Linked DNA regions of Homo sapiens: all the other regions are linked to region 3. Evidence: fine-mapped expression QTL. A gene starts in region 3. Each other region holds a variant in brackets. All regions are shown on one strand. Distances are from middle to middle.

Region 1 (8,170 bases), 46 kb before region 3:
CAGGGCATTGGTTGCTTGGGACTGGGAGGTCCAGGGTGGGATGGGGAGCCACACAGGGCACGAGGACAATTTTGGGGCAATGAGGGTGTTTGTCTCCTGATGGGGCTGGCTTCATGGCTGTCTATGTAGATTAAGATGGATGGAATCGTGCAGTTTAAACATGGCAATGGCTGCGTGTCAATGACACCCTCAACGAAGGTGGTTTTAAAAAGTATAAGGCAAATGACAAAACTGGGAAAATATTTTGAATCAAGTATGACAGAGAAGGAGTCATGTCATTCATACATTAAAGACACTTGGAAAAACACGTCAGGAAAACATTCCCACCCTAAGTAATTTGTTCAGGCTGCCATAAGAAAGCACCAAGTCTGGGCAGCTTAAATGACAGACATTTATTCTCTCACAGTCCTGGAGGTTGGAGTCCGAGATCAAGGTGCTGTGGAGCTGGTTCCTCCTGAGGCCTCTCTCCGGGGCTTGCAGATGCCACCATCTCCCTGTGTCCCCAACGGGGCTATCCCTCTGTGCGTGTCTGTGTCCTCATCTCCTCTTGTTATAAGGACACCAGTCCTATTGGATTAAGACCCACCCATATGACTCCATTTTAATTTAATTATGTCTTTAAAGACTCCATCTGCAAAAACAGTCACATTCTGAAGTATTAGCGACTAAGGCTTCAACATATGATTTTTTTTTTGTTGAGACGGATTTCACTCTGTCGCTCAGGCTGGAGTGCAGTGGCACGATCTCGGCTCACTACAACCTCCACCTCCCAGGTTCAAGCGATTCTCCTGCCTCAGCCTCCCTCGTAGCTGGGACTACAGGTACGCACCACCACACTCGACTAATTTTTGTATTTTCAGTAGAGACAGGGTTTCACCCTGTTGGCCAGCTGATCAACTCCTGACCTCAGGTGATCCACCCGCCTCGGCCTCTCAAAGTGCTGGGATTACAGGCGTGAGCCACTGTGCCCGGCCGCAAGGTAAGAATTTTAAGCAGGACACAATTCAGCCTGCAGAAAACATGAGCGACAGACAGAAGCAGCCAAGCCCTGGAATCAGAAATATGAGCAACCGATACACGCACGCCGCTACACCTGGCTCACTTGTCTATTTTTTGTAGAGACAGGGGTTTCACCATGTTGCCCAGGCTGGACTTAAACTCCTGGGCTCAATGATCCACCCACCTTGGCCCCCCAAAGTGTCGGGATTACAGGTGTGAGCCACCGTGCCTGGCCGAGGCTGCAGTTTTCAATGAGGTGGGTGAATGAGGCCTCCGTGGGAAGAGGGCATGGCAAGTGTGCGGGGTCAGCACGTGCCCAGGCCCTGCGGCCCGGGAAGCCCACATGCTACAGGGGCACAAGAAGGCCCACGTGGACCCTCAGAGGCCCCCGACCACGCCATGTGAGAGGCTGACTACCTCTGCCACCCCCTCTTTGTGGCACCCGAGAGCAGGGTGCCTAGGAGGCCAAGAATGGTGGGGGGAACTGGGATTAAGATGGGACTCCTAGAATGGAGGCACTGTTGAGCCCTGGGCCACCAGGAGCAGGTGCTGGGAGGGGCTCTGCTGCTGCAGCAAAGGGGCCAGGTTGGCTGGGAAGGTGGGAGGGAGTGGGGGAGGAAGGTGGGAGGGAGGGGGGAGGGAGAGGGAGGGGCTGATGGGGAGACAAGAAGTCTCTAATGGCAGCTGATTCTGAAGGGCTTCGTCAGGGCAGCACCAACACACCCCCGCCTGCTGTCCTGGTCCTGTCCAAACGCAGCCTCCCATGTGGGTGGGGGGCCTTCTCTTCTGGTTGGGAGAAAAGCCAGGTGGCCACGTGTGTGGCTGGTGATCACAGGCTGGCGCTGCAAGGAGCTTTGAGGCTGCAAGGAGCTCTTGCTGTGCCACTGCACTTCCACACTCCAGCCTGGGAAACAGAGTGAGACCGTCTCAAAACACACACACACACACACACACACACACACACACACACACATACAAAAGCAGAAACCGACCAGGACATTGCTTGCTTGAGACTGGGAAATCCAGGATGGGATGGGGAGCCACACAGGGCACGAGAAAAATTTTGGGGCAATGGGTGTGTCTATCACAGCTCTGGGGAGGGCCGCAGGCTGTTTGGGGGGGTGGTGTCTTCTGGGTTCTATCCTGGTGTAATGCACAATGGCTTTGTGGATGTGAGCAAGCCACATTCCCAGAGCCATGGTCACCCAGCCGGTACACAGGGTCTGAGGATGCTGGACGCAGGCAAGGAGGGTTTGTGGTCCACGCTGTGGCCTGCAGGATGGGCAAGGGCTGGCAACAACCCTTCTGAGCTGCCTGTGCCTCTCCTGTGAGTCCTGCCTGCTCTGCCCCAGGGATCCTGGTGCCTGGGTCTGGCCTCCCCTGGGCTGTCTGGTTCCTGGACAGTGAGAGCCGGTGATCTGCAGCCAGGGCCTGGCACAAGTAGGTGCTGGGTAAAACAAGGGGGTTGCCATTTCTTCCTAATCTTTGAAAACCTGCATTTGAACATGGTGGCTCACTGGTTTGTGCTTACAGTGATTTCGCTACAAGTGTTTGCACCTTTTTGTGTGTTTATTGGCGGGATGAATGAATGAGTCTATGAATGAATGAGTGAGTGTATGTGTGAACAGCCCCTCCCCCACCCTCTGTATGAATGAATGAATGAGTGTATGTGTGAACGGCCCCTCCCCCCACCCTCTGTATGAATGAATGAATGAGTGTATCTGTGAACGGCCCCTCCCCCACCCTCTGAATGAATGAATGAGTGAGTGTATGTATGAACGGCCCCTCCCCCACCCTCTGAATGAATGAATGAATGAGTGTATGTGTGAACAGCCCCTTCCCCACCCTCTGTATGAATGAATGAATGAGTGTATGTGTGAACGGCCCCTCCCCCCCACCCTCTGTATGAATGAATGAATGAGTGTATCTGTGAACGGCCCCTCCCCCACCCTCTGTATGAATGAATGAGTGTATGTATGAACGGCCCCTCCCCCACCCTCTGAATGAATGAATGAATGAGTGTGTGTGTGAACAGCCCCTCCCCCCACCCTCTGTACGAATGAATGAATGAGTGAGTGTATGTGTGAACGGCCCCTCTCCCCCACGACCTGATTCTCATCTGCAGGCTGAAAGTGCTTTCCCAGCTGAATTCGTACGTTCCCTTAAAACCCTTCAGGGACCCTCACTGTAAAAACGCCCCAGCTCCCCCAGCCTGACTCGCAAAGCTCAGTTTAGGGGCTGCCCTTGCAGCGGGGCTCCTGGCTCAGGTCTAGCAGGTGGAAGCAGAAGAGCATGTCCCGACACACCGATGAGAAGTTGCTGAGGACGTGGAGCAGCAGGAAGCACCACCTTTGCAGTGGGAACGCCAAACAGTGCGGCCACTTTGGAAGACCGCGGGGCAGTTTCTTACAAAATCAAACGTCCTCCTACCATACAACCAGCAATGGCCCTCCTGGGTGTTTCTGCAAATGAATTGAAAACTTGTGTCCACCCTAAAACCTGCACACACATGTTTGCAGAGGCTTTATTCATTACTGCCGAGACTTGGAAGTAAACAAGAAGTCCTTCCGTAGGCAAAGGGATAAACCGAGGTACATCCAGACAATGGAACAATATCCGGCCCGAAAAGAATGCACTATGAAACCACAAAAAAACCCAGAGGAGCCCTAGCTGCATCTCACTCATGGCAAGAAGCCAATCTCGAAAGGCTACGTGCTGTATGATTCCAATGATACCACAGCCTGGAGAGGGCAATGCCAAGGCGGCAGTGGAAAGAGCCAGGGCTGCCAGGGGCCGGGGGAGGCAGGAATGCACAGGCAGGGCAGAGGCAGCTTTTCAGGCAGTGACACTTCTGTGTGACACCATAGTGGTGGCTAAAGGACATTTTGCAAGGATGAAACCTGGGGGTAAACTCTGGACTTAATAGTAATGCATCAGTATTGGTTTATCAATTGGAACAGATCACACCACACGATGCAAGATGTTAATAATGGAGGGGCACTCAAGGAGAGGGGGTCTGTGGGAACTCTGTATACTCCCTGAGCAATTTTTCTGTAAGCCCAAAGTTCCTCTAAAAGATAAGGTCTACTTAAAAAGGACCAATTATTGGGCCAGGTGCAGTGGCTCATGCCTGTAATCCTAGCACTCTGGGAGGCCGAGGCAGGTGGATC[A/G]CCTGCGGTCAGGAGTTCGAGAACAGCCTGGCCAACGTGGCGAAACCCCATCCTTATTAAAAATACAAAATCAGTTGGGCGTGGGGGCCCGCACCTGTAATCCCAGCTACTCGGGAGGCCGAGTCAGGGGAACTGCTTGAACCTACGAGGTGGAGGCTGCAGTGAGCCAAGACTGTGCCATTGCACTCCAGCCTGGGCTACACGTGACCCTGTCTCAAAAAATAAAAAATAAAATACAATAAAATAAAATAAGGGCCAGGCATAGTGGCTCACGCCTATAATCCCAGCATTTTGGGAGGCCAAAGTGGGCGGATCACGAGGTCAGGAGATGGAGACCATCCTGGCTAACATGGTGAAACCCTGTCTCTATTAAAAATACAAAAATTAGCCGGGTATGGTGGCGCACGCCTGTAATCCCAGCTACTCAGGAGGCTGAGGCAGGAGAATTGCTTGAACCCGGGAGGCAGAGATTGCAGTGAGCCAAGATCGCGCCACTGCACTCCAGCCTGGCGACAGAGTGAGAGTGAGACTCTGTCTCAAATAAATAAACAAATAAAAATAAAATGACAATTTATTAGTTGTTTATCTGAACTTCAGATTTAACTGGGCCTGTATTTATCTGGCAGCCTCAACCCCGTGCAGACCATTGATCTCAGGAGAGGCAGGCAGAGCGGAAGCCGCGCTGGCATTTGTGTTCAATGGCAGGTGGGAAGGAGGAAGAGGAGGTCTCCACTGGCTCCCCAGGCATCTCAGAGACCCCCCATACTTAGCATGCCTTCCGGAGGATCCCATTAGCAGACTATCAGAGAAACAGGGATGGAAGGAGTGGTGAGGGGTCTGCTCCATTGTGACCCCACCCCTGCCTCGCCCTGAGGAAGGACCTCAGCTCCTAGCTCAACCGCCGCCCTCCAGCAGCCCCAGTGATCTGAGCAGCACCCACCCGTGACCCACAGCTCGGCCTCCAATCACCCTCCTCTCCACATCGGCCACCCACAACTCTGAACCCAACTTCCAGCAGCCACATATCTCTAAGCACACTGCACAATGTGGCTGCCGAAAGAGGCAGCATTGCATGAACATAAAAGGAAGCCTGAGGACCCCCGGCCCCAGGACCCCCCTTCTCCAGCTCCATCCCTGTCCTGCGGTCTGCTCCTTGGGCCTGGCCAAGGGCACCTGCTGCTGGGCAAAGGCCTGTCTGGTCACCAGCCTCCTGGGACCCTGCCACTGGCAGCCTGGAGCTTCTCCACCTCACGCAGGCCTGGACAACAGTGGGGACGGCTGCCACCACCTTCCCTGCCCACTCTGGCCCACTTCTCACTCCATCCTGCTTCAATGCCTTCATGCTAGATAGACCCCCTGGAGTCATTTCCACTCAAACCCACCCATCAGGAGGAACTCCAGCCCTACCCGGCCCAGGCCCTCGGAGGGGCACAGTGCCCTCTCCTCCTCCTGAATTTCCATCAACCCCAGTGCCCTCCCGCAGCCCTGTTCCCACCTGCAGGCCTGGGCCCCCTGCCCCCAGCAACAACCAGGACCCATGGCCCCGCTTCTTGCTCTGAAGCATGACACCCCTGCCTCTTGCTCTGAAGAACACTTAGGGTGCTGTTGGGTGCGGGAACAAGCCAGGCTTGGGGGTGGGGGGCACGGGCAGTTAAAGAGATAGATGGAGAAGTGGCCTGAATCCAGCCACCAGGCAGAGGAAACCAGGGGAGGAGGGAGAGGCCTGGGGACAGGGGAGGGAGGCTGCTGCCCTCTACTCCCGAAGGGTCCCAGCAGCCCTCCTGGCCAGCACTACCCAAGGAAAGGAGTGAGGACTGGGCCTTGGACGGGGGTCCCTGTAGAGAGGGCCTTGCCAGAGGCTGGAGGGGGCTGGCCAGAAGGGTGGAGAGGGGGTGAGCAAACGGCAAGGCCTGAAGAGGCCAGTGGCCCTCTTGGAGGAGGCGTGGTGGGAGCACCGAGGATGGACAGCGTGGCTGGTGTGGCCAGCGTGGGGGCTGCCAACCGGGCTGGCCAGAAGGGCGAGGTGAGGGGCCCTGGGGTTCCGGGCTCCCGGGTAAAAACAGCCAGATGGAGAGAGGGGCTTCAGACCCCAGGCCCGGGGACCCGCCCTCCCCAGCACTACAGCCCCGGTTCTCCACTTCCAGCTCCCAGCAGCTGCAAGCGCAGCGGTGCGGGGCCAGGCTGTGGCCTGGAGCTGCCAAAGGGCAGGGGCACGGGTGTGGGGGGCGTGCAGGCCGGGGTCCCGGGAGGCAGGGCAGACAGGCCCGAAAGAGTGCGACGGCGGCGGGAGGTCTCTGGGGCTGGGAGGGGTGCGGGCGTGGGCGGGGCGCGAGCAGCAGGGGCGCGGGCCCGGGCTTCAGGCTGTGGGGCCGGGAGTGCGGGGCGGGACTGCTGCGGCCCCGCGTCCTGTGGAGTCTGCGGCGCGGGGAGTGGGGGTCGGGGCGGGGAGGAACGTGGGGTGCGGGACAGGAGGGGGGCAGGGAGGGAGAAGAAGGCGGCGCGGGGCGGGGCGGGCGCAGGGCTGGGGACGGCACGGGCGCGCGGCACGGGCGCTGGCGCGTGCGGGGGGGGCGGCGCGGCCTCCGGAAGCGAGGGGGCGCTGTGCCAGGCGGCGGCCGTGCGGGGCGGGCGCGCTGCTCCTTCCGCCTCGCGGACCCCGGAAGCGCGCGTGGCCGCCATGGCGCGGAATGTGGTGTGAGTAGGGGTCGTCACCCCCCCGTCGCGGGGCGCCCCTTAGTGTCACAAGCAGACGGACCCCACAGGGCGCGCGGACTCCGGGGAGCGGGGTGGGCGTCCCTGGGCCGCCTCCTGGCCCGGGCGAGGCAGGGTTCTCCGGGACCCCCTGTCATGCCTTGAGACACGCGAGGCGGGTGGCGGAGGAGCCCCCCGCCAGGTTTAGGGCAACCCCAGGGGGCGGGCGTGGCCGGGCTGGGGACAGAGGGTCCGAGCCAAACCCATGGAGGCCACGGTGCCCCCGCGTGGGGAGTGGGAGGGTGGCCCGGGGTCAGGCCCGGGGCTGGTCCCGCAGCCAGGGCCGAGGGAGCTGTTTGGAGACGTTTCTGATCGTCACGGGGCGGGGGCCACGTCGGCTGTTGGGTCCAGGCGGGGAGGCCCGGGCGGCCCCCACCGCAGCGCGGGCGCGGCCTGAGGCAGAGGAGCTGGGAATCCAGATTGGGTTTGAGTGGGAAAGGGCAGCTGACCGCAGCCCTCAGGGCTTTGGGGCAGGCAGGGCGGGAGGCCCGGTTCTGCTCAGCCCAGACCCCCCACGCCCACTCTGCATGTTCTCTGGATTCCCAGGGGGCCATCGGGGCGCTGTCCTGCACCACTTCGCCCTCCCCAAATTGAAGCAGGAAGCCCTGCATATTTCTTGGTGAACGAATGACTCAGGCGTAATCAGTAGATGTGGGCTCCCGGGTGGGTTTTGGAGAACAGTAATCAGTGTTTCTGGAGAGGGACGGTCAAGGGGCCAGGGTGTGGCTTTGGAGGCCCCTGCACATAGCTGGGGAGAGAGGGGAGGGTGGCAGGTGGGACCCCCAGTGGAGGAGGCTTCCTTCAGCAGACACCTGGGACCGGTGCTGCGCGTGGCCCTGACCTTGGGGAACACCCAGCACCAAGGAAGAAAAGGTCTGAGTGAGGCCAACACTGCCCTGAGCCTCACGTGAATTCCACGCTGGCCCTTCGCCTGTCCCTGGAGAATGAGGAGGAAGTGAGGGTCAGAGGACCCGGGTGGGGTGTTCCTGAAGGGCCAAGGGTGGTGGGCCCCTGGAAACGGATCAGGTGTGGTTGCCTTGGAGGCAGCGGGGCCCGCTCGCCCAGCAGTGCACACACTCCTGTTGCCAGGGAGCCTTTGCAGGGAGCGCTGACTGGACTTGCTGTGGACTGGATGCAGCTGGGGTGGGGGTGCCGAGAGGGTGGGATCCTGGGTGAGTCACTCGTGGGGCCGTGGGGAGGCAGGCTGGTGGCAGTGAGCCAGGTTTTTGTGTTTTGAGGAAGAAGTTAGT
Region 2 (8,170 bases), 110 kb before region 3:
TGAGAGAGACAGGCAGCTTCAGGCCCAGGACGAGGAGGGAGGCGGCCATGTCCCCGAGCGGCCGAAGCAGGAGATGCTGTGAGCAGCCCCATAACGCGTGCCTGGGCTCTAGCCCCTATCCGTGTACCCTGGGGCCTGGGCAGAGGGGGAGGTCAAGGGCCTGGGCTTGGGGGTTCCAGTGCAGGATGAGAGCGAGGAAGGGCCCCCAGGAGCAGGCGTGGGAGTGGGTGAGTGCTCCTGGGGCGAGGGTGGCCACAGCCCTAGAGGAGGGTCTGCCAATACCTGGCTGCCTCCTGGGCGCTGACCCAGGCTCTGTGTCCGTGCCCTGGCCCTTGCTCGGACCGCCTCTGACCCCAGCCACGCAGCCTGGCCGAGCCCCCCACCAGACTCCCCCGCCAGTGACTCACAGAGCCACGTCCAACTTGGCGGCCAGGCTGGCTTGCTTCCTCCTTGGGCCCAGGAGGCCTCCGCGGCTGGGCTGGGCTGTTTTTCCAATAATGCTTCCCTTCCTTCTGGCCTCTTTTGTTCCATTTTCTCCAAGTCAGCAGCCTTGGGCAGAGTGGGGTTCAGCGGTCACCATAGTCAGGCCCTTGGCCACCCCCACCAAGGGCCCCAGCTATCCAGGGGCTCCCCCTGCCACATGGGAGGCCTGAGAAGTCGGGGCTTAGGAGGACCTCATGTAGGGTCCTCATGTGGGGACCAGGGCAGCCCTTGGGGAGCCCCAGGATGATGGGGGAGGCACAGCCCTGCCCTAGGGAGCCCCAGACTGATGGGGGAAGCACAGCCCTGCTGTTAGGGAGCCACAGGCTGACGGGGGAGGCCCAGCCCTGCCCTAGCGAGTCCCAGAGTGATGGGGGAGGCACAGCCCTGCTCTTAGGGAGCCACAGGCTGACAGGGGAGGCACAGCCCTGTCCTCAGGGAGCCCTACACTGATCGAAGAGGCACAGCCTTACCCTCAGGGAGCCCCAAACTGATGAGGGAGGCATAGCCCTGCCCTCAGGTAGCCCCAGGCTGATGGAGGAGGCATAGCCCTGCTGAGCCTCAAGGAGTCCTGGACTGATGGAGGAAGCACAGTTCTCAGGCTGCCCCAGAACTGACGGGGGAGGCATAGCCCTGCCCTCAGGTATTCTGACCACAGGAGACACAGCCCAGAGCCAGCTCTGTGGCAGACAGGGTCTCCCACACTTGGAGTCCAGGGCCTGAGCGGGCGCCGTGAGGTGAGTGTGGGCCCTGGGCAGAGGAGGCAGCAGCCGCCCAGGCCTAAGCTCCCCCCTGCTACCCTCAGCCTCAGCCTGAAGCCCTCGGAGGCCCCTGAACTGGATGAGGACGAGGGCTTTGGCGACTGGTCCCAGAGGCCAGAGCAGCGGCAGCAGCACGAGGGGGCGCAGGGCGCCTTGGACAGCGGAGAGCCCCCCCAGTGCAGGAGTCCTGAGGGGGAGCAAGAGGACAGGTGAGTGAGGGCCTCGAGGGCGGGCGCTGGGCAGAGCAGGGCTCCCTCTGGACCTCGAGGGCGGGCGCTGGGCAGAGCAGGGCTCCCTCTGGACCTCGAGGGCGGGCGCTGGGCAGAGCAGGGCACCGCGGAGCTCCCTTCAGGCCCTCAACCTGCGCCTGAGCAGCCACCCCATCCTCCCCTTTCCAAGCAGAGCCTGAAATGCCCCCATGGCCAGGAAAGGGGGAGACAGGAGGGGAGGGAGGAAGAGGGCGAGACAGCATGGTGGCCGGCGAGGGGCCGCGAGGAAACCTCATTCTGGGGCTCCCCAGGGCCCCTGGGCCCCATCCAGGCAGCTGCGAGGCCAGGCCGGGTGCTGCCACATCAGCACACAGCTGCGGCCGCTTCCGTAATGGAGGCTGAGAGCCCGCCGCCGCCCCTTCCTCCCTCGGGGCTGGCTGATCTCCATTCCCACGGAGGGGAGCAGGTATTTCCAGATGTGCATGCCGGAGAGTCGGCCGGGAGGACGCACTTTCCAGATGTGGGGATGTGTGTGCCTGTCTCAACCCCAACAGGCCCAACAGGGGCTGCTCCCGAGCCCCACTTCACTACCCCTGCTCGGGGTCCTTGCCGCTCTCAGTCATCTGTGGCCATGATGGGGCTGACCCCACCCGCCCTGCAGGGCCTGGGCCATCTGGGACCCCAGCCCTGCTCAGGACCCCCTTGCCTTGAGTGGGACCAGAGCCCATGGCTGGGCTGACAGTTCTCCCTGGTCAGGGTCCTTCCTGGCCCCTCTGAGGCCCTAAACCAGCCTGGAGCTCTAGGGACCAGTGTTGCTGAGCGACGCTCCCTTGTCCTCCTACAACCAGGCTCCCACTCCCCAAGAACCACTGGTCCTGGCCTGGCGCAGTGCCCACCGCCCCCCTCCCTGGGCCTCAGTCTCCCCCCTACGTGCTTGGGAGTCAGCGGCTCTGCTTTTCTGAGATGGGGCAGCTCCCTTCTCCCTTGGCCTCAGGCCTAGGCGGGCGAGGCTGCTCCCACCAGCAGGGGGCGCTTTGACTCTTCCGTGGAGCCCAGCTCTGCGGCCGCCACCCCACCCCCTGCACCTGCCTGGCTGCACAGACCTGCTCCTGAATGGCCCCTCTGTGTGGCTGCTGCTGGCTCAGACCCCTGCCCACCTTGGGCGGGTGGGTCTGGGTCTTGGCTGGCACGCACACCCAGGGGCCTGAAATCATGGAAAATTCGAGAATTTCCCATCTTCTCCTCCAGGTTCAGTCCTGCTCAAATGCAGAGCCGCTCAAAGCTGCCAGCTGGCTGGCCTCCCCTCCCCCGCAGCCGGCAGCCCCTTGGCCCTGCTCCTCAGTGACCTGGCCCCTACCCCTGCCTAGCCCTCCAAATGACCCAGCCTCCAGTCCCCCAAACACCCAAGGGCCCCCACAGGGAGCAGAGCAGGAGTGGTGGCCCCAGCAGCCCGGCCTCGCGGGGACCCCGTCAGACCAACCGGGTGTGCAAGCAGCTGCCAAGCTGAGGCCCAGCCACAAAGCTGGGGATTGAACCCAGCCTCAGTGCCTGGGGGACCCTCAGTCTGTAGAGCCCTGTCTGGCAGGGACTGGGCAGTTCCCCAGGGGCCTCAGGCCCTGACACAGGGGCCCAAGCAGACTGCGCTGGCTCTGAGGCCACTGGACCTTCTTTCCCAATGGGCTTGGGTCTCAGATCCCTTGGCACTCAAGTAGCCTGACTACCTTCATTTTACAGATGGGGAAACTGAGGCTTGGAAAAAGGAAGGGGTCAACCAAGCAATCCAATGGCCCTAGAACGGCTTTGCCTCCCTTTCCACCCACAGGCCCGGCCTGCATGCCTACGAAAAGGAGGACAGTGATGAAGTCCACCTGGAGGAGTTGAGTCTGAGCAAGGAGGGGCCAGGCCCAGAGGACACTGTCCAGGACAACCTGGGGGCCGCAGGGGCTGAGGAGGAACAGGAGGAGGTGATGGCTCCACCTCAGAGGGTCTGGGTGTACCCCCACCCCAGGGATGAGTCTGCCTTGGCTGTCTGCACCACTCTGTGGGCCCTGTGGGTCTAGCCCAGAGTGGGTCAGCACCCCACACCCCTAGACCTTGCAGCCCCTTCTGGGCCCACATTCTCAGAGAGGGCAAGGCTCAGTGATCCTCTTGCAAGATCCGGAGACATCTCTCCAGACTCCTCAGTCCCTCCCCACCAGCTCCAGAACTGGAGCACGTCAGGGCCACAGAGAACCTGGGGCTCAGGAAGGAACAGCATTTGTTCCCACAGGTGCTGGGCAGGGCAGGAGGGGCACAAGCAGGGGGTCACTTGGGATGTCTGTTTTTTTTTTTCTAGCACCAGAAATGTCAGCAGCCCAGGACACCCAGCCCCTTGGTCTTGGAGGGGACCATCGAACAGAGCTCGCCTCCCCTGAGCCCTACCACCAAAGTAAGTTAAGCTGCAAAGCCTGCCATCTTCTCCCCTCTCCCGTACTCATACCCAAAAGGCCAATCCCACATGCCAGCCACAGGAAGACCAGGCCCAGGCCTGGCTTTTGTCTGCTATCCCCCCATTGCCCGGTGCTCAGCGAACCCCCATGATATAAGGGTTGGGGGTTGGATTAGTGGTTGGAGTAGCTGGGGAGATGGAGGGTGGGCTTTACCTCGGCTGCTGCAGGCCTGTGTCTCTCTCCACCCTCTGCAGCTCATCGACAGGACCGAGTCCCTAAACCGCTCCATAGAGAAGAGGTCTGTCTGTCTGTCTGTCTGCTTTCTGGGCTCAGATCTTAGGTTTAACCAAGTGGGGGTTGAAGGGAGTCACAAGGTAGAGATCTGGAGACCGAGGGGGGCTCTGGGAGAGGCTTGGGCAGGTTGGGAGAAGCCTTGTGGGAGACATGGGGCCTGACACATCTTCTACCCTCCAGTAACAGTGTGAAGAAATCCCAGCCAGACTTGCCCATCTCCAAGATTGATCAGTGGCTGGAACAATACACCCAGGCCATCGAGGTATGACCTGGCTCCCCTCTGCTGTCAGGTCCCTCCTGCATCCTGGCACCATTCCTTCATCCAACCAA[C/T]GCCCTTCCATCCAATCAGTGCCGCCTTATTCAACCAACACCCTATCCAACCAATGCTTCTCCATCCAGTCAGTGCCCCTCTACCCAATCAATGCCCCTCCATCTAATCAATGTCACTCCATGTAATCAATGCCCCCCCTTTCAATCAATGCTACTCCATCCAACCAATAATCTCCCATCCTATCAATGCTTCTGCATCCAATTAATGTTCCTTTATACAACCAATACTCCTGCAACCAATACTCCTCCAATTATTCAGTGTTCCTCCATTCAATCAATGCCCCCCTCGGAACAGTACTCCACCACCCAATCAATGCTCTTTCATCCTATCAATGCTCCTCTATCCAGCCAATATTCCTCCAGTCAATCAATCCCCCTTTATCCAACCAGTACTCCTTAATCCAATCAGTGCCCCTCCATCCAATCAAGATTCATCCCTCCATCCAATACTACTCCATCCAATCAGTGCCTCTGCATCCAATGTCCCTCCATCCAATCAATGTCCCTCCCATCCAATCAATTCTCCTCCATCCATCAATGCTTCTCCATCTGACCAATACCCTCCATCCAACCAATACTCATCTATCCAATGAATGGCTCACCATGTAACCAATGCCAGTCCCACATGCCAGCCCCTCCATTCAATCGGTACCTCTCCATCCAATCATCCAATACTCTTCCATCCAGTCAATGTCCCTGCATCCAACCAATAGTCCTTCATCCACCAACTCCCTTCAATCCAACCAATACACCTTCATCCAATCAATACCCCTATTCATTCAGTGCTCCTCCATTCAATCAATTCCCCTCCAGCCAACCAAAACAACTTCATCCAGTCAATGCCCCTCCATCCAATAATGCCTTGCACCCAATCAATGGCCTTCTATCCCATCAATTTCCCTCCATCCAACCAAAATAGTTTCACCCAATCAATGCCTCTGCTTCCAATCAATGCCCTTCTATTCAACCAATACTTCTTTATCTAATCAGGACATCTCCATCTAACCAGTATCCTTCCATCCAACCAACACTCTACTAAATCAGTGCCCCTCCATCCACCCAGTGCCCCTCCATCCACCCAGTACTCACTTATCCAACAAGCACTCCTCTATCTTACCAGTATTCCTCCATCCAATCAGTGCTCTTCTATGCAATTAATGCCCCTCCATCCATACTTTACTCCTTCACCCAATCAGCGCCCTTCTAGTCAAGCAATACTTCTGATTTCAATTAATCCCCCTTCAACCAACCAATACTCCTCCATCCAACCAGTACTCCTCCATGCAATCAATGTTCCTCTATCCAACCAACATCCTTCTATCCAACCAATATTCCTCCATCCAATTAATGCCTCTCCATCCAACCAGTACTCCTCCGTCCTATCAATGCTCCTGTATCCTATCAATATTCCTCCATCCAACCAATACTTCCCCATCCAATCAATACTCCTTCATTCATTCACTGCTCCTCCATCCAGTCAATACCTTTCCATCCTACCAGTGCCCCTCCATCCAACCAATACTCCTTTATCCAATCAACGTCGTTGCATGCAATCAATGCCCCTTCATTGAACCAATACGGCTCTATCCAACCAATACTACTCCATTCAATCAATGCCCCTCCATCTAACAAACACTCCCTCATATAATCAGTACTCCTCCATCCAATCAATATTCCTTCATCTATCAACACCTTTCTATACAACCAATACTCCTCCATCTAATCAATGCTCCTCCATCCAACCAATACTCTGAAATTTAACCATTGTCCCTCTATCCATTCAATGTCCCTCCATCCATCCCATGGTCCCCCAGCCCTACCCCATGAGGAGCATGGAGGCAGACCCACATCTGTCCTGTGCGCCATCATCTCCCTGATGCTCTTCAGGACAGGGAGGTGTCTCACAACTGCATCGAATGGAGGAAGGCTCATCTTTCCAGTGATCCCCACTCTGGGGCTGCATTGGGAAAGCGCTCCCAGGGAAAACACAAACACAAAGCAGACGGTTGCCCAGTGTGACCCTCTGATGTGACCACGGTGGCTGTCCACTAAGGTAATCCTGATGCTTTTCCTCCTCTGCAGACCGCTGGCCGGACCCCCAAGCTAGCCCGCCAGGCCTCCATAGAGCTGCCCAGCATGGCTGTGGCCAGTACCAAGAGTCGGTGGGAGACGGGTGAGGTACAGGCTCAGTCTGCGGCCAAGACTCCGTCCTGCAAGGTAAGGTCCCCTCCAGGGGCAAGGCTGGGCTGCAGAGCCAGCGCCTGGGAGTTTAGTAGCAGGCCGGGTTTCCTTGTTAAGACAAGCATGGGACTGTCCAGGATGAATGTGGGTATACAGAACCCTGAGGTATTGCAGTAGGGTTGGGTTCACCCTTGCTGGTGTAGAAGGCTGTGTTGTCCGAGTGGAGGTAGATGGCACCTTTATTCCTTTCCCTGCCTCTTCCACTGGGATCACACAGAAAAAGTTTAGGTAGGCAGATCCCAGGCCCCCTGGCCAGGTAAGGCAAGGCGGGAGAGAAGGGCCCAGGGCTTCTACTCCCCAAGATCCAGGGGTCTGCCCTTGTGACATACCCTTCTGCTGCCCCCAGGATATTGTGGCTGGAGACATGAGCAAGAAAAGCCTCTGGGAGCAGAAGGGAGGCTCCAAGACCTCATCAACAATTAAGGTAGAGCCTAAATGTGGTTGGTGCAGGCAGGGTGGGTGCAGCAGGGGAGGGCAAAGAGGGACTGTCCTCTGTGCATCTGGGAGGGCTTCCCAGAGGCGGAGGCAGCATCATCTCCTTTCTGCTGCTCTCACCTTCACTCTTGGTCTCCTTTCCCAACAGAGCACCCCATCTGGGAAGAGGTATAAGTTTGTGGCCACCGGGCATGGGAAGTATGAGAAGGTGCTTGTGGAAGGGGGCCCGGCTCCCTAGGCGTCCCATCTCGGTGAGTCCCTGGCAACTCACAGAAGGGGATGAGGTGCACACACGTGCACTGTGCTGGGAACTTGGCAACCTGGAGGCTGCCTGGAGCCCTGTTGCAGGCTACAAGGGTGGACTCCGAGTTGGCCAGAACCCAGACCAGCTCAGTCTCCCAGTCCTGTGCAGATGCTGCCTCTCTCACCTGATACCAGATTCAAACTCTCTGCTCATTTCACTAGAGTCAGCCCGGCTCAGCCACTGCTCCACTAGGGAAGCTCAAGGCTCCCATCTGGGACTCCCCAAAAGCCACAGCAGGGCTCGTGAGGGAAGTGAGGGGCAGCCTGGCCACCACAGGGCTAGCATTGAAGGAAGCAGGTGGCATGGAGCCCAGGTTCCCTGACCATCTGTATGCTGAGGGTCCATAGAGGGGCAGGAACTTAGGTCCTACTCCCTGTCCCAGCCGAGAGCGATTCAGAGGTCCTGATGCCCTCCCCATCCCATGCTGCAGACAGAGCAGTGCCACTCCTGCCATGGTGAGACACACATTTATTAGTGACCTGGGCCCCAGGCTCCATTTCCAGCACCCATCACACCACAGGGTGGGGCAGCTGTCCTCCTACCATCTTCCCCTGCCAAACCCTGACTCTCAAGCAGCTGTGGCAGAGGCTTTTTCTGGTACCTCTGTGTCCCTCTCCTGTGGTTGGCCACCCCCACCAGAGCCTGGCTGACTGCTGAGTAGGCCCCTCCACTCTCCCCACCAGGGCC
Region 3 (8,170 bases):
CTTGCTAAGACTCCCATGAAACACACAGGGGGCTGCTCAGGGGGTGCAGGCGGCAGGAGCGGGGACAGCTCAGAGGTGGGTGTGGCACAGGGTTCATGGCATAAGAGGGGTGGCCTCGGGAGCCAGGGCGGGGGCAGCCTGGAGCCAGCAGCCCTGAGGCCATGCACATCCACAGCATGCTGGCGGTGACAGCCCCGACCCGTGGCAGGGGAGCAGGCTCTGGGCTTGTCTGACCCGTGAGCACCCAGTGGCCTGGTGGCCTCAGCCCTCGTTGCCAGCCTCTTTCTAAGGTCAAGCCTGTGCTCTCCAGCCAGAGAAGGCATGCTGGGCTGGGCTGGGCTGGGGTGGGCAGGGCTGAGCTGGGCAGGGCAGGGCAGGGCTGGGCTGGGCAGGGCTGGGCAGGGCAGGGCAGGGCTGAGCTGGGTAGGGCAGGGATGAGCTGGGCTGGGCAGGGCTGGGAAGGTCAGGGCTGGGAAGGGCAGGGCAGGGCAGGGCAGGGCTGGGCTGGGCTGGGCTGGGCAGGGCAGGACAGGGCTGGGCTGGGTAGGGCAGGGATGAGCTGGGCTGGGCAGGGCTGGGAAGGGCAGGGCTGGGCTGGACTGGGCTGGACTGGGCAGGGCTGGGCAGGGCCGGGTGGAGTGGGCGATGGTGTCCATCCCGCTTAGTGGCTTCCTCTCACAGGAAGTCTGACCACCCTTCAATGCTGGGGGTCTAGGCTGGGCAGGTGGACGTGGGGGTCCATTTCTAGGCTCTAGACCCAAGGCCTTCCTGCTGCTCAGAGGTTCCTAGGCTCAGCAGAGAGGGCGGGGACAGAAGGTCCGAAATTCCATGTCCTTGGGATCCCATCTGCCCGTCCTTCCCGCCCAGCCCAGCCCAGTCTGTCTGCTCCCCAGCCTCCCACGCCCCCCATTGGCGTGCATGAGTGACATGCGTGTCCCGCACACCCTCGGTCCTGTTGTCCATCTCCCCCATCGCCCGCACACCCTCGGTCCTGTTGTCCATCTCCCCCATCGCCCGCACACCCTCGGTCCTGTTGTCCATCTCCCCCGTCGCCCGCCACCCACGCCGTCCCCACTGCCTTAGGCTGGCTGCCCCTTTGGACAGGGGCTTTGTCTACCCAAGTCACAGGACACGTGAAATTCAGCCTTAATTAAGTTGTTGGGTGATGGAGTCCCAGATGTGGGAGGCTCAGCCAGACCCTCTTGGGCTGCCCACCCGGAGAGCGACTGGGGCTGAGAGCCTCGCCTGGGGCCACTGTGCAGCTGCCGCCTCCCGCCTCCCACCTCCCGCAAAGGCCTGGGAGTGGGGCCCAAGGCAGCTGCAGCCCCACAGCCTGGCCTTGACCCTGGGCTGCCCCACAGCCCCCCTGCTGGCTCCGTGCCCACTGGGAAAACAAGCTCCTTATCTCGAATGCTTCCTGTGAACTGCAAACAGCCACGTGTCCCTTGGGAGCCACTCTTGATGAACGTGCCCTCTGTCCCACGACCCAGGGTGAGGCCGTTCACCCTCGGGCTGGGGGCCACCGGGACTGGAGGCTCTAGGCCTGGAATGAGGGGAGGGGACCTGCGGCAGGGCAGAGCCAGGCTGGAGACCACTGCATTGGGAGGGTGAGGAGGGAGAGGAGGGGGCAGGAGGGTTTGGGTCCAAGGCCTGGTTGCACAGGACAGCTGGGGATGGGGGAGAGGGGCACAGGCCAGAAAGGCTGGGGCTGCGGGGGCTAGCTAAGAGGCGAGGGTTCTGGGTGGCAGCAGCAGGCAGGGACCTTCCCGGCGGCCCCAGTGGCTCCCTCCCTCCCAGAACCCTTTCTCCTTCCTTGGGCCTAGAGCTTCCTCCACGTACTTTTCCCCGCCCCCGCCTTTCCCCTCTCTCTCACCCCGCTCAAACATGCTGTGACCTTTCCAGGGCCCCTGGACATCACTCACTGGGTGACAGAGGTTGACAGGCATGGAGCTAAGGAATGGGAGGCAGGGCGGGGGCGGCCAAGCCTCTCCAGCCGCTCCCTTCCCGCTTGCCCCACAGACGGGCCTCCCTGGATGGTCCTGGGTCAGCACACACGCTCCCAGGCGCTTCCTTCCCCAGGAGACAGTCCCCAGCCCCTGGCGGCCCAGATCCTCCTGCTCAGGCCGACGCATCCCACCTGGGCCCCAGAAACCTCTTTGGAAAGGGACAGTCACCTCAGAGTGGCAAGCACTTAAAAGAGACCCCCAACAGGCCGGTGTGTCGTGGTGGCAGGCAGGGTGTGTCTGGAGAGAAGGGGGACGTGTCCCCAGCTGGGCCTGGGGGCGGCTCCGTGGGAAAGTCCCACCTGGTCCCAGCCCCGGGTCTCCAGCCTTCAGACTCCTTGGGGGTCTCTGTGGCCTGGCAGAGGTCGGTGGCCCCTCAGTGGAGGTGAGGCCTCTCCTGGGTCACCACCGCACACCGGCCTGCTGGGAAGCTGGGGTTCTGGGCCACAGCCGGCCCTGGACGTGGAGGGGGGCATCAGGCCAGACCCCCCAGGGGCTCACAGGGCTCTGGGAGGCCCTGGCAACCCCAGGGTGCCCCCAAGCCCTCAGAAGGGTTGTCCCTACTTGGAGGGGACCACACAGCCAGGTGGGCAGGAACAGGCACCACGGCGGCCCTTCCCTGTCCACCCTCTCACCAGTGGCCCGCAGTGCAGTCCAGGAAGCACCGGACAGAGCACGGGGCAGGGAGGGGAGGCCCGTACTGGCTTCACAGAGGTCTGGGAGGGGCTAGCCCCTGTGCAGACAGACCCCTGAAGCCTAGAGCCGCCGGCCCAGCTGAGGTCCTTCCCAGGGGCCATTCTGGGACCCCTGACCCCATGCACCTGTGTCACAGGGCTATGAGCGCCCCCAGCCCCAGGACCTCCACGTTTCTCTCTAGAGGGAAGAGGAGGAGGACGGCAGGCCTGCTGGCCCCACACTTACTGGTTGGGGACGCTCAGAGGGGGCAGCCGCCATGCCGGGAAGTTAGGGTGGGCAGAGGAGCAGCGGTGCCAGGACCCCCAGGCCATGCTGCCACCCCGGACCCTGAACAGTGGGCTAGTGTGTGGGCCTGGGGAGTGAGGGCCCAGGCCGGGCTGGGTCTCGCTCCATAAACCCTGGCTGGCCGGAGCTGCAGACATCACTGTTGACACAGGGGTGATGTCACTGCCGGCCAATGGGGAGACCCTCGGGGGCCCTACGTGTGCCTCTCTGTGCTCCCAGGGCCCCCGCCACGCACGCCGCCTGCTCTGAATGCTGCCTGCATAAACCGGTTTTTCTAAATGTCTTTGGGGCCCTGCTTGCCCCCTGGGCCCCATCTCCTGCTCATCCCACCCCACCCTTGGGCCCAGCCTATGAGCCAAGCGGGAGTGGGGAGTGGCGGAGAGCCCTGGGCCTGCCCGCTCCCACAGGCATGTGGGCCCCAGAGCCCTGACCCCTGCACCTTCACCTCGCCAGCCTCTCTCCCATCTGCCACGACCCCAGCTGCCACCATGGCTCCCCACAGTCACCCCTGGGCCGTCTCTTCCTCCTGTCGGGAGAATGTTCCTCCTGGGAGAGCCTGAGGCCCCCTCTCTGCTCCTTGCTCCCCCGTCTGTCTCCCCTGCCCTGCCTTGCAGCCCTGCCCTGGGTCCATATGCTCAGAGCTGGCTACATATCCTGTGGCTGCCCATGACACATAGCTCCCCCAGGCAGGGCCGGACCCCGGGCACCTCTTTGCCTCCAGGGCCGGCCCCACTCTGTTGGAGGTCAGCCGGTTCCGAGGCCTCCAAGCCGCCTTTCTACTTCTCGATTCCAGGGCCTGGTCTCCACTCCCTCTGGGCTTTGGGGTGCATGCTGCAGTGCAGCCTCCCCGCGCCCCGGCCTCCATGCACCCTGCTCGTGCTGCCTCAGAGGCTTGGCATCTCCCCCATCTTCCAGCCAGGCAGCCAGTTTTCTGCAACGTGGGGCCCACGGTCAGCGTCCCCCACAGCCCTGCCAGCCCTTCTCCCCGGGGGTCCGCCCTGCACCCCCTTCCCAGGAGCTTGCTCTGCACCCACTGCTGGGCCTCCTGGCCTAGGGGCTTGGCACGTGCCTGTGAGCAGAGGCGCTGGGCAGGAGGAGGAGGAGGAGCCTGCAGTGCCTGGCGCCCGTGTGTGTTTACTGGTCCGGCCCCAGCCCCGCGCCGCTCCCCGCGGACCCGGCCTCCCGCCTGTGTCCAGCCAGGTGTTGGGTGATGGAGCGGGGCTCCCTAAGGACAAGGAGCACAGTGTCTGCTTTCTTTGCAAGCACAGTGCTGACAAGGAACAGAATACCCACAGCGACTGCTTCCAGGAAACGGCTGCAGGGCGGGCGGGAGCCTCTGCGAGAGCAGCCCCTTCCCAGCAAGCCGGCCTGCAGGTGGGCTTCCAGGAAGGGGCCCCCGCTGGCTTCCCTCAGCCCTGGAAGGGGGCCAACGGTGTCACCAGGAGCAGGCCAGGGAGCGGGGTAGAGGGGGGAGAAAGAGAAAGGAGAGGCGCGGAGGAGGGAAGGAGGGACGGGGCGCAGGCCTATGCTATGCCTAGTGTGGTTACCACAGCCTTAAGGGAGAGCAAGGCTGACCACAGCTCCTTCTCGAACCTTCCAATCCCCCTTTTGAGAAGTCACAAGATCTCCACTCAGGTCTTTGGCTCTCTGGGGCTTGTCAGGCATCACACACACACACACACACACACACACACACACACACACCCGTGCACACCCATCTGAAAACACAAGCAAGCTGGGCCACTGGGGGAGACCATTCCCTGAGACCCAGCCGGGGTCCAGGTTGAGGGGCTGACCTCCTGGCCCCCATGTTGGGAGGGCCGAGGAGGGCCCCCGCCCGGACCCACTGCGCCCTTGGCTCTGAGTGCTCAGATCCCACCCCCATCTCTAGAGAGGAGGAAATCATTTATCTTCCTGGGAGCTCGGGGTCGGGGAGAGGGGGCTGCCCTCCTTGAGTCCCCGACTGTTTTCTTTGAGACTTCCCAGGGTGCATTGTAGTCAGACCCAAAACATCGCTTTGTCCCTGTTGAAGGGACTTCACTTCCTTCGTAGAGTTGGGATTTTCTGTCTCCATTCGGTGGTATACCAAGTGCCTGCCTCCCACACCCAGCTGCCCCTAATCCCTGCCTGAAAACGTGCTCCTGGGTCACGGAATTCATGCTGAGACACAGCCACACACAGCCAGGCTCAGGGGTCCACCCTCCAGGGAACACCACCCCGCTACAGGGCCACGATCACACACACACCCCGCGGAGCATCTCCGGGCCGGACAGGACCCACGCCCTCCACAGCCCGGAAAGGCGGGTTAACTGGTCAGCATGCAGAGACCCACCAAGTGGAGACCCCGCTCCCAGGCACAGACGCACAGCTGTGGATGCACGTCCTCGGTGACAAGGTAGCTGAGGTCGCGTGCCCCGGGTGTGTACGGCCCACAGAGCCACAGGGGACTCGCCAGGAGATGCGTGCACCGAGGGTCCAGCGTGGCCACAGCAGCAGCACGCGCCTCAAGTCCTCTTCTCTAACTGGATGACTTGGTCTTCACTCAACCTAAACGTGCCGCAGAAACTTGGGTGGGTGGAGGGTCTGGGTGTGAAGACCTCGGTGCCTAACAGGGTCTGGGACGTGGCCAGAAGCCAGGGCACCCTCAGGGTCTCCCTGAACGGTGGAAGTTCCTCCCTCCCCAGATTTCCTGGCACCTTTGCAGGCAGCCACAACCCTCACCCCGGCCCCGCCACCCCCATGTTGGGGTTTGGGAGTGAAATTCCAGCCCGTTTGCTTCTCCGCACTGAAGTCAGTGCAGGGGCGTTTTCAAAGTGCCTTTGGGTGTTGGGGTGCCTGGAGCCTGTCTAACAACCCTCTCTAAGCCCCTTTTCTAAAAAGCAGGAAATCGGGTTGGGCCAAAGATAAACACACATTCCAACCTGGCAGGTCGCTCAGAGCTAGGGGCTCGGGCGGGCTCCCAGCCCCCGCCCCGGGGTGCGGCAGGAGGCTCCGAGGCTGAGCACCTGCTGCGGGGCCCCCGGGCCTGTGGCTCCCCGCCTGCCCGCCTCACCCTGAGGTTCAGCCCCCTGAACGCTGCCCCCACCACCTCCCTGTTTCAGGGCCTGTGGCCCAGACCCCCTCCAGCACTCAGGGGCTGCCCTAGGGACACCACCCCAGGAACTGCCCTAGGAAGCCCGTTCCGCTGCAGGGAGCAGAGAAACCTGGGCTGCCCAGAGGTAGGCGCTGCCCCTGAGTACACGTCCTGCTCTCAGGGGGCAGCCAGCGTGGGCACAGCCATGGGCAGTGCTGGGAGATGGTGGGGGCCACCAAGAGGCCTGTGTCCCTTCCCCAGCGGGTGTGAGGAGGAACAGCCCTGTCCCCATACAGCTCCCAGGTGGAAACTCCAGAGCAAGCGTGTCATTCATACACCCCGGGCCCAGAGATGTGGACGTGTCCAGCACGCCTGTTCTCTCCAAGTGACCAGGAGGAGACAATCCCTAGGAGCTGACACAGGTGACGAAGGCCCGAGGTGGCCCGCCTTTTCCCCCGGCCCCATTCCCATGTGTCCTTCCCCAGGCAGGGATTTGAAGTGGGCAGAGTCTTCCATGTTCTCCAGGAGAGGTTTTCTGGGTGCCCCTCTCCCCCTCCCTACGGTTCCCCTGCCCCGCCACCCTGGGCACCCCTGGGGCTGCCTGCCGCACCCTGCAGCCGCCACCTGGGGAAGCCGGCTTTTATCTCCTGAGCCCTGCTTTGTAAACCTCCTGCAGAGTTGGATGTTTATAATAAAGGCCGTTTATAGACCTAACTCTTGACATGTAATGGATGGGTTACTTCATCCTGCCGGCCAAAACCCACTTGGGTAAGTCAAATTGGCCTGTAGGGTCAGGAAGATGAATGCGGCCTCACCCTGGGCTGGCCCCAGCGACCTCTGACCTCCTCCATGAGATGGCAGCCAGTCCCAGGGGCACCATCCCAGAGACTTCAAGAGACTCCCTCACCGGATGTCTACATGCATCCTGGGGGGTGACCACCCGCCCAGGTTTTAGCACACAAGTGTGTCCCTGGAAACCCCTCGGTCTCTGACAGTCCCCAGGGCCCACAGCTGGATGGGGAGGGGGCAAGAGAGGGTGCAGAGGGGAGGCCAGACCCAAGGGACGTGGGGAACCACCCTGCTCTTCCGCCCTGGACACCAAGACCCCAAGGGCGGCTGGGCCGGTAGGGGAGGGGCGTCCCTAACCGCCTTCCTGTCTGTTCTTTGTCAGTCGGGGAGGAATTTTCCTGACAGCTCTGTGCACTGGGAATGGGGGTGGAAGGCAGGGGGGAGGGGGGAAGGAATGGGGAGGCCGGGACCCCACCCTTATTTCCAGGGGCTGCCCCTTGTGTTCCCAGCGCCTGCACAGCGAGGGGCCGGGAGCTGGGAGGCCTGGCTGAGGGAGCTGCCGGCCACTGGCCTCTGCGGGGAAGCTGACCCGGAACCCATGAGTGGGCTGCCTTGGCACCTGGGGAGCGAACCCCTGCATACCGGGGTTCTTGGAGCTCCAGCAGCAAGACCCCGGGGAGGGAGCCCGGGAGCCCCTCACCCTGGGCCCTCCCGCTCCTCCTCACCTCCTCCCTGTGGCCACCCTCAACTTCTTCCTCCCTCCTCCTGGTCCCCTGGCCTCCTTAGGACCTCTGCCCCAAGGCCACCTGCCCACTGAGAAGCCCACCGGCTCCCCCACAACCCCCTGGCTCCTTGTGCGGGGCCGTCCCTCCGGCGTGGCCCCGGCTCCCACCCACAGCAAAAGGGGAGCAGGAACGGGACTGGCGCGGGGTTCGTGCCCCTGTCGGGGTGGGGTCGCCCAGAGCACCTTGTGGGCCTCCCAGAGCGGCCATGGCCAGCTCTACCCCAGTCACCTAGCCCGGGCTTCAGGGGTCTGGGGCCAGCACCAAGGCGTCATTCTGATGGGACTTTGGGGCGACAGGAGGCACTCGCTCGGGGATGGTTTGGTGGTCCCCGACCCCTGCCTCAGAGCGCAGGCCCCCTCCGCAAGCCCAGCCCCCGCCCAGTCTGTGAAGCCCCTGGTCCCACAGCCCCTCCACTGCCATCACTGCATGCTGACCGCCTGCCCTGCACCCCTGAGGTCCACACACCCTGTGCTCACCCCACCCCTGGTGTGTGCTGCGCTGCACCCATCCCAGAATCCCCCACCCTGGAACCCCCATCC

Evidence for each region.
Region 1: its variant is fine-mapped to the expression of MRPL23-AS1 in thyroid (GTEx, PIP above 0.99).
Region 2: its variant is fine-mapped to the expression of MRPL23-AS1 in subcutaneous fat (GTEx, PIP 0.97).

What each region holds. Positions count from the first base shown.
Region 1 is chr11:1,940,517-1,948,686 of GRCh38, forward strand. MRPL23 (mitochondrial ribosomal protein L23) reads left to right here and starts at 6,816. Exons shown (of 5, transcript NM_021134.4): 1 at 6,816-6,863. The coding sequence starts at 6,847. The variant A/G (reference allele first, on the strand shown) is at 4,170.
Region 2 is chr11:1,880,147-1,888,316 of GRCh38, forward strand. LSP1 (lymphocyte specific protein 1) reads left to right here. Exons shown (of 11, transcript NM_002339.3): 2 at 1-78; 3 at 1,286-1,450; 4 at 3,273-3,414; 5 at 3,786-3,878; 6 at 4,134-4,177; 7 at 4,354-4,435; 8 at 6,586-6,720; 9 at 7,091-7,168; 10 at 7,328-7,430. The coding sequence ends at 7,417. PRR33 (proline rich 33) reads right to left here. Exons shown (of 1, transcript NM_001395380.1): 1 at 7,932-8,170. MIR7847 (microRNA 7847) reads left to right here; the gene lies at 1. Among named protein-coding and RNA genes, the nearest start is that of MIR7847, 4.2 kb to the left of the region's middle. RefSeq lists an enhancer at 1,874-2,083 and a silencer at 7,061-7,227. The variant C/T (reference allele first, on the strand shown) is at 4,504.
Region 3 is chr11:1,986,902-1,995,071 of GRCh38, forward strand. MRPL23-AS1 (MRPL23 antisense RNA 1) reads right to left here and starts at 3,019. Exons shown (of 4, transcript NR_024471.1): 1 at 2,925-3,019. It overlaps LINC01219 (long intergenic non-protein coding RNA 1219), which reads left to right and starts at 4,195. Exons shown (of 3, transcript NR_126400.1): 1 at 4,195-4,358; 2 at 5,037-5,379; 3 at 6,354-6,568. It also overlaps a transcript of MRPL23 not described here. RefSeq lists enhancers at 1-4,908, 1-843, 838-4,908.